Homo sapiens: one gene and its partner. The protein of the gene in region 1 interacts with the protein of each later gene in a pairwise test. Each region holds a gene or a part of one and is shown on either strand. Other genes may lie near its edges.

What was found.
Region 2: the proteins of LAPTM5 (region 1) and HMOX2 interact in binary tests that used the Homo sapiens proteins (3 or more experiments, as listed by UniProt).

What each region holds. Positions count from the first base shown.
Region 1 is NC_000001.11:30,751,158-30,754,907, forward strand, and holds part of LAPTM5 (lysosomal-associated transmembrane protein 5), read right to left. Parts: intron 1,204-3,750; exon of another isoform or gene 1-1,203. UniProt on the Homo sapiens protein: May have a special functional role during embryogenesis and in adult hematopoietic cells.
Region 2 is NC_000016.10:4,500,322-4,504,071, reverse strand, and holds part of HMOX2 (heme oxygenase 2), read right to left. Parts: intron 1,329-3,750; exon of another isoform or gene 1,113-1,328; intron 1-1,112.

The sequences.
Region 1 (3,750 bases):
TGGGCCATGGGGGCCTCCTGCTTTTAGAAGCTGGGGTTCACACCCCTGAGGTGAGGAGAACAACTCAGTTCTGACACTGAGGAGGGGCTACAACTCCCACCCTGCCCCCACCGGCCTCCTCACCCCTCCGTGAAGCGCACAGAGCTGCAGTGGCAGAGAACGTGGCCTCTCTGTCCAGCCCAGGGGCACTGGACATAAAGGTGGCAAGTTCTAACAGATTCTCACCCAGGGTTTTCCCCACCTGGCAGTTTGGACCCATTTTTCAACCCCAAACAGATGAACTTTCAACAGAGGAGTGGGGCCAGGCACTATGGCCCACGCCTATAATCCCAGCACTTTGGGAGGCTGAGGCTGGTGGATCACTTGAGGTCAGGAGTTCAAGACCAGCCTGGCCAACATGGTGAAACCCCATCTCTCCTAACGATACAAAACTTAGCCGGGCATGATGGCACACACCTGTGATTCCAGCTACTTGGGAGGCTGAGGCACAAGAATCACTTGAACCCGGGAGGCAGAGGTTGCAGTGAGCCAGGATCACGCCACTGCACTCCAGCCTGGGTGATAGAGCAAGACTCAGTCTCAAAAAAAAGGGGCGGGGGGCCTTGTGTTCTTCTTCCACAGCCCACTTCAGGCACTCACCTGCTAGCCCTCCACCCGGCTTCGCTAGGGTCTCCTCCAAATGATCACTTTTGAGGCAGGGACCACTGGCCCCATTTACAGATGAGGAAGGCAAGGCTCAGATAACAAAGGTGCCCGCCTGCTCAAGTCACACTGCTGGTAAGTAATGGAGATGGGCCTGTGTTCCTTTCAATCACAAATCACTGCCCCCAAAGTGGAGCAGAGAAAAGAGCCCCAGGAGTTCTAAGGAGGACAAATCAGGAGAGCTTCCTGGAGGAGGAAGCTTCCCGTAAACTGGACCATAAAGAAGAAATGAATGGTGGGAGGCTGGATGAGGGCAGGGCCTCCCAGACAGACACACCACCCCAGCCATGGGGCAGGGAAGGAACTCATTTGCCCACTTTCTGGATCATTCCACACACCTGTGTGCCAGCAGGGGGACCTGAAGCAAGCTCCTGCCCCATCTCTCCATGTGTCCTGGAGCAAGTAAGGGGCCCTGCTGGACCTGTTTTCCCATCTGCAAAATGAGCTGATAGGCCGAAGAGAGATCCATCTTCTTAGCTCTGAAGCTTGTAAAAGCAAAGGACTCGGGCAGGTCCCACCCCTGGGGACCTCTCCACCCTCCTCCCCGACACACCTCGTGGCCACCCCTCCTAACCCAGCTTGACAAACCTGCTAGGTCTCTGAAGCACTGCAGGGTCCTTCCCCTCCAAGCCTGTGTCATGCTACTCCCCCCGCCCAGCGTGACCTCTTTTCCAAGGTGCCCAAGCAAAGCCCTACTCATCCTTAAGACTCAGACCTCCTCCAAGAAGCTATTCCAGAATCCCAACCTCCAGCCCTACATCTGTGCCCCCATCATAGCCAGCAATGTCATCCATTGTCCTCGTCGGTTTTTCCTTGGCAGACTGGCCCCTCAAGGGCAGAGGCCGTGAATGAGTCAGGGCTGTATCCCGGCCTGGGGCTGGGCACATGGGTGAACTTACCTGCACGAGGTCAGGGCAATAGAGACTCCTTCTTCAAATACTATGATTTGAATGCTTTACCTTTTTTTTTTTTAAAGAGTCTCACTCTGTCAGGCTAGAGCGCAGTGGCGCGATCTCGGCTCACTGCAACCTCCACCTCCCAGGTTCAAGCAATTCTCCTGCCTCAGCCTCCCGCGTAGCTTGGACTACAGGCTCCCGCCATCATGCCCAGCTAATTTTTTGTATTTTTAGTAAAGACAGGGTTTTGTCCTGACCTCAAGTGATCCACCCGCCTCAACCTCCCAAAATGCTGGGATTACAGGCATGAGCCACCGCACCTGGCCGTACTTTTTTTTTTTTCCAATTTAAAAGTAGTATACTTGAGCCACAAAGTAAAGTACCATTGGATTATAACCCAAAGCATACAGTAAAGATCCCTGGGTCCCTGTAATATAAATAAATCATTTATTTATATAATAAACTGGGAGTACAGACAAATCTCCTTGAGAAATTCCAAGTAATTTATGTAGCTACTCTGCCCTCAAGGAGGTGGGGCGGAACTCCCCATTCATCAAACTTGAGTTGCTTGGAGCAGCATAGTGACTTCCTTCTAAAACATACAGCATGGAAAGGAGAAAAAAAGAGTAACTTTACAAAGGAGTAACCTCAGCCGGGGGCTCAAAGTCACCAGCAACAGTGGTAAGTCAAGTTGGCAGAACCTTTTCTTAGTACGATGTTCTGAGACTGGCACATCATCTCTGTGGTCTTCCTCCCAAAAGCACATTCCCAGACTAATCATGAGAAAACCACCAGAGACCCCAGTTGAAGAACATTTGACAAAATGCCTGACAAATACTCCTCGAACTGTCAAGATTATCAAAAACAAGAAAAATCTGAGAAACCATCATACCAAGAGGAACCTAAGGAAGTGTGAAGACTAAATGTAACGCGGCATCCTGGATGCAATCTTGGAACAGAAAAAGGATGTAAGAGGAAAGCTGGGGAAATAGGGGTGAAGCACTGACTTTAATAACAGCCCACGAATATTCATTCACCCATTGCAACAAACGCACCACACTAACGTTGAGACGTTAGCAATAGAGGAACTAGGCATGGGGGACGCAAGAACTATCTGTACTGTGTTTGCAATATTTTCGTAAATCTAAAACCGTTCTAAGTACGTGCTCATTGTACCAAATATGGAAAATACAGAAAAGTAGAAAAAATAGAGCTTTCACTATCCTAGAACCCAAATACATTTCCTCCTCGCCCAGTTTTGACGTATCCTGTTTTGACACTGTTGAAATCATAGCAGGTGTTAAGTTTTTTAACCCAGACAATGCATTTCTGACAGTGGAATTCCGGGCACTCTGGGGAAGAGGGGTCAGGAAGAAAGAGATTTCTGGGCAAAAGTGTCTTCTGGGGGTGTCCACTTTCTACCATCGACTTAGAACGTGCTTCAGGTTGACAAAAAGCCAGGACCCAAGAGACCCAATTTAAGAAATTTCTCTAGACTGGGCTCGGTGGCTCATGCCTGTAATCCCAGCGCGTTGGGAGGCCAAGGCAGGAGAATCACTTGAGGCCAAGGGTTTGAGACCAGCCTGGGCAACATAGTGGGACCCTGTCTCTACAAAAAAAAATATTTAAAATTAGCTGGCCATGGTGGCATGCGCCTGTGATCCTAGCTACTCAGGAAGCTGAGGTGGGAGGATCTCTTGAACCCAGGAGTTCAAGGCTGCAGTGAGCTGTGATGGCACCACTGCATTCCAGCCTGGGTGACAGAGCAAGACCCCATCTCTTAAAAACAAAAACAAAACAAAACAAATCAAACCACAAAAGATGGGCAAGTTACTGAACTTTGAAAAAAAGAATAGATTTTTTAAAAAAAGAAAGAAAGTTTGCTGGGTTCCCAAAGTGTGCAAGTTTGGGTGACCCAGAGAATCCTCTACACAAACCCACTGACATCCTGAGGAAGATGCCCGAGCCCAAAGCTACGGACCAGGCTTCCCTCATGTAATAACGCCCTCATGACTCAATAGAGCGTGGCACTGTCTCAGGATGGCAAGGTCTCAATTTAACCCTCCCTAGAGGGGCCAAGTCCACAAATAGCTCATGATGTGCAGAGTCGTCACCCATGGCTGGGTCCAGATGACAGCCAGCATGGGCTATT
Region 2 (3,750 bases), on another chromosome or scaffold:
GTCCCATAACAAGGCAAGCTCATCCTCCATCCCTCGGGGCTTCTGCTCAGGCAATGTAAGGCGCAGCCCATTTGGGGAATCTTCCACATGAATAGCAGCACAGTAGCACCGACAACTAATAAAGTAACTCACAAAGACAGAACTGGGGCCAAATCAGGCCAAACTGGGCCAAGGAAAAAGAACTTATTTACTGAGCATTTTCTATGTGCTCTACCCAGAAACAGGTGTCAAGAAGAACACAGAAGTGTTAAGAAATGGTCCTTAAAAGGCCCAAGGCACATATCCTTCCTGAGTTTTCTCTAGATACCTAGTTACATTTTTGTTATCTTTTAGGATATTATAGTACATGGTTTGCTCACTGAGGTCTTTTTGAACCATCTCTCTCACCTTTAGATTTAGCATCTCTACTGGGATTATTTTAGGAAGTCAAGCAATAACTCATATAGCACAATGCCTACCATGTGATAAGCACTCAATGAATGTTACATCATGATCATACTTTATTTTGACTGAGGCTTAGTGATGTCTGAGAACACTCAGAAAATAAACATCGGGATGTACAGAAAAATGGAACCTTCTCTTGACTCCAAATCAGAGACACTCTACTCTGCAATAATGCTGATGAACTGTACGATGCACAGCACAGTCTAGAAGAATGTGAAAGCAGGCAGGTATTACATGCAGGGAAGAGTATGCAGAGGGCTTCCTGGGGCAGGACCCTCAACACAGACAGGATTTGGGGCAGGGCTGGGGGAGGGCCTCCAGATCAAGGGAATATTATGAACAAAGCCAGAAATGGGTAGTTCACAGAGATAGCATAAGGCTGCCCAGCTGTGCGTCCACTTACCAAGGGGCAAAAACAGGCATTGCAAGCTGTAGAATAAGCCTCACATGGGCCTTCAGACCTTGATTTATAAATGTTTTCTTTTTTTTTTTTGGTAAAAGTACAGCTTTGCTAGCCGGGCGCGGTGGCTCACGCCTGTAATCCCAACACTTTGGGAGGCCGAGGTGGGCAGATCAGGAGGTCAGGAGTCCGAGACCGGCCTGGCCAACATGGTAAAACCCTGTCTCTACTAAAAATACAAAAATTAGCCAGGCATGGTGGCACACACCTGTAATCCCAGCTACTCAGGAGGCTGAGGCAGGAGAATCGCTTGAACCTGGGAGGCGGAGGTTGCAGTGAGCCGAGATGGAGCCACTGCACTCCAGCCTGTAATCCCAGCTACTTGGGAGGCTGATGTAGGAGGATTTCTTGAGCCTGGGAGACAGAGGTTGCAGTGAGTCGAGATCATGCCACTGCACTCCAGCCTGGCCGACAAAGTAAGACTCTGTCTCAAAAATAAATAAATAAAATACTTTAAATAATAAGAACAGCTTTGCTGTACACCCTTGAGGACCCTGAGAGCCAAAATTTGTCTCTGGCTGCTCAGTTCTCAGGCAGCAGAGAAAAAGGTGCTGGGATGAAAACACTGAGCTATCTAGAGGAGGGAGGGGTGCAGTAAAGGGTCCTGGAGCCTCTAGATGGGTGATGGAAGTAAAGGACCAGGCTGAGGGCACACACACACCAGGCTGAGGGTCCAGGTACCCCAGGACCACAGGCCCCATGCTTCTTACAGGCAAAATGAGGCAAAGACAAGTGCCATCCATGGCCCAGGTTACCAACTGCAGTAACTTCAGCGTGCTTCTTGCCATTTGCACCTACTTATCATGCTGCACAACAGTGATAGGGAACGTGATTAAATCTCATTAACTGTGTTTTACTCAATAATAACTGCATGCTCTGGGAGAGTATAGTCTTGCTTAATTAAACAACAAGTCCTTGTGCTTCTCCGAAAAATACAAAAAGGAGCCAGGCACAGTGGTTCGCACCTATAATCCCAGCATTTAGGGAGGCCGAGGTGGGCAGATCACCTGAGGTCAGCAGTTCGAGACCAGCCTGGCCAACATGGTGAAAGCCCATCTCTACTAGAAATACAAAAATGAGCCAGGCATGGTGGTGGGCAATTTTTTGTAATCTGCTGTCCACGACTTCAAATTTTCTACACTCAAAATAGGTTCTACCGATTTTACTTTGAAGGAAAGCTAACAGGAAGAATACTGAGTTCTCAAGGCGGGCTGAAAGTACCAACTACCATCTGTACAGACCTGGGGGCTGGGGGCAGAGGAGGCTCCTGGGAAGGCTCGGTTAGCATATTCAACCCACAGACTGGGGCCAGGGGAGGCGACCCTGTGGCCTAGCCACTGTCCAAGGGAGTGGCCACACAGTGTGGCATTCAGAGGCCACCTTGCAACTGCAGAAACATAATTTTTTTTCACTTTCTGAAAAGCTACATGTCCAGACTTAGTCTGGCTGGTTTCTATACTTGAATGCTCTTTTCTTTGCAGGAACCATTGGAATCTCTAGAAAATTGAGGGCCAAATCATAAATATAGAACCTTTTTAGACTTCAATGTCTAATATCCACAAGAAGCTACATGTTCCCCACCCCCACAAAAGAGAAAAAAAGATCCTAAAATATTCCACTCTGGGAAATACACTTCAAGAAATAGTAATAGTAATTGTAATCTGTATCAAAATAATACCCAGCCATACTATGATGTTAGGAAAAAAACAACACACAGCCTAAGAACAAAGGGCATGACTGCTCAAACAACAGTCAACAATGGAATCCTGGCACAGCCGGGGCAAGTTGATAAGCTGTGTTCATGCATGGAAAAGCCTACAGAAACTTTTTATTTTTTTAAAAAGGATCCCAAACACCGACTATAACTGTGTGCAAAAGTATACTGATAATGACAAGTGGGAAATTTGGAGAGCTATAAATACTTGTTTTTTGTTGGACTTTTTAGCCAACTGGCTGCTTCTTTTATATGGAGTGACTCAATTCTCTTGGAAAGAAAAAGGGAAGAGGGAGGGGAAGGCAGCGAAGGGAAGGGAAAAAAGAAACCGAGAGACAGGAATTGGACCAAGCAAACCAGCTAAGATCCCGCACTGCATTAACTAACTAGTCAATGGAAGCTCCTGGGTCCTCTTTTCTGTTACAAATTCTAGAAAGGCCAGTCTACCCTCTCTCTTTCCCATTTCCAAAAAACTGGGACCCTCTGTTTATAAAATCTACCTCCACTACTCCATAATTCCAGTACTCCTAGCTGTTCACCTCATCAGCTGCTGATTCTCATTCCAACACCTGAGCTAACAGAAGCAGTAACAAAGTTCCTATCACAGTTACTTCAAGCAAAAGAGGTTCCTTTAGACCAGCTCAGCAGATCCAGAACACTGTCTCAAAGCTTTTGCTCCTGCTAAATTGCTGGCATGAGGCACTACCAGGACTTCTGAGACAACGAAGATGGTAAATCCTCCTCCATGGAGACTAAGTCCAACAAATTTCAGGTCAGGTAACTCAGTGCATTGCTACCAGGTGGGAATATAATCTAAGGACTATATTATAATTCATTTCCCATCTGGTCATACAGAAAGGAACAATAAAGACTTCTTTGCCCTGGAGAAACCTGAACTGAAGGAAGAGAGCAGGTTGCTGAGCTCAGCCAGCACCGAGAGTAAGCAACAGCAGACTGACTCACTCCCTGGAATGAGAACAATTCTGCAGGCTTCTGACTCAATGAAATAGTGACACTTGACAGTGACCAGCTACTACACTGCATGAGATGCCCACAACATGAACTCGGGTTGTTACCCCACAAACACAGGGAGGCTAAGTGGCTGCTCAGAGACTTCTGCACTGGGACTCCA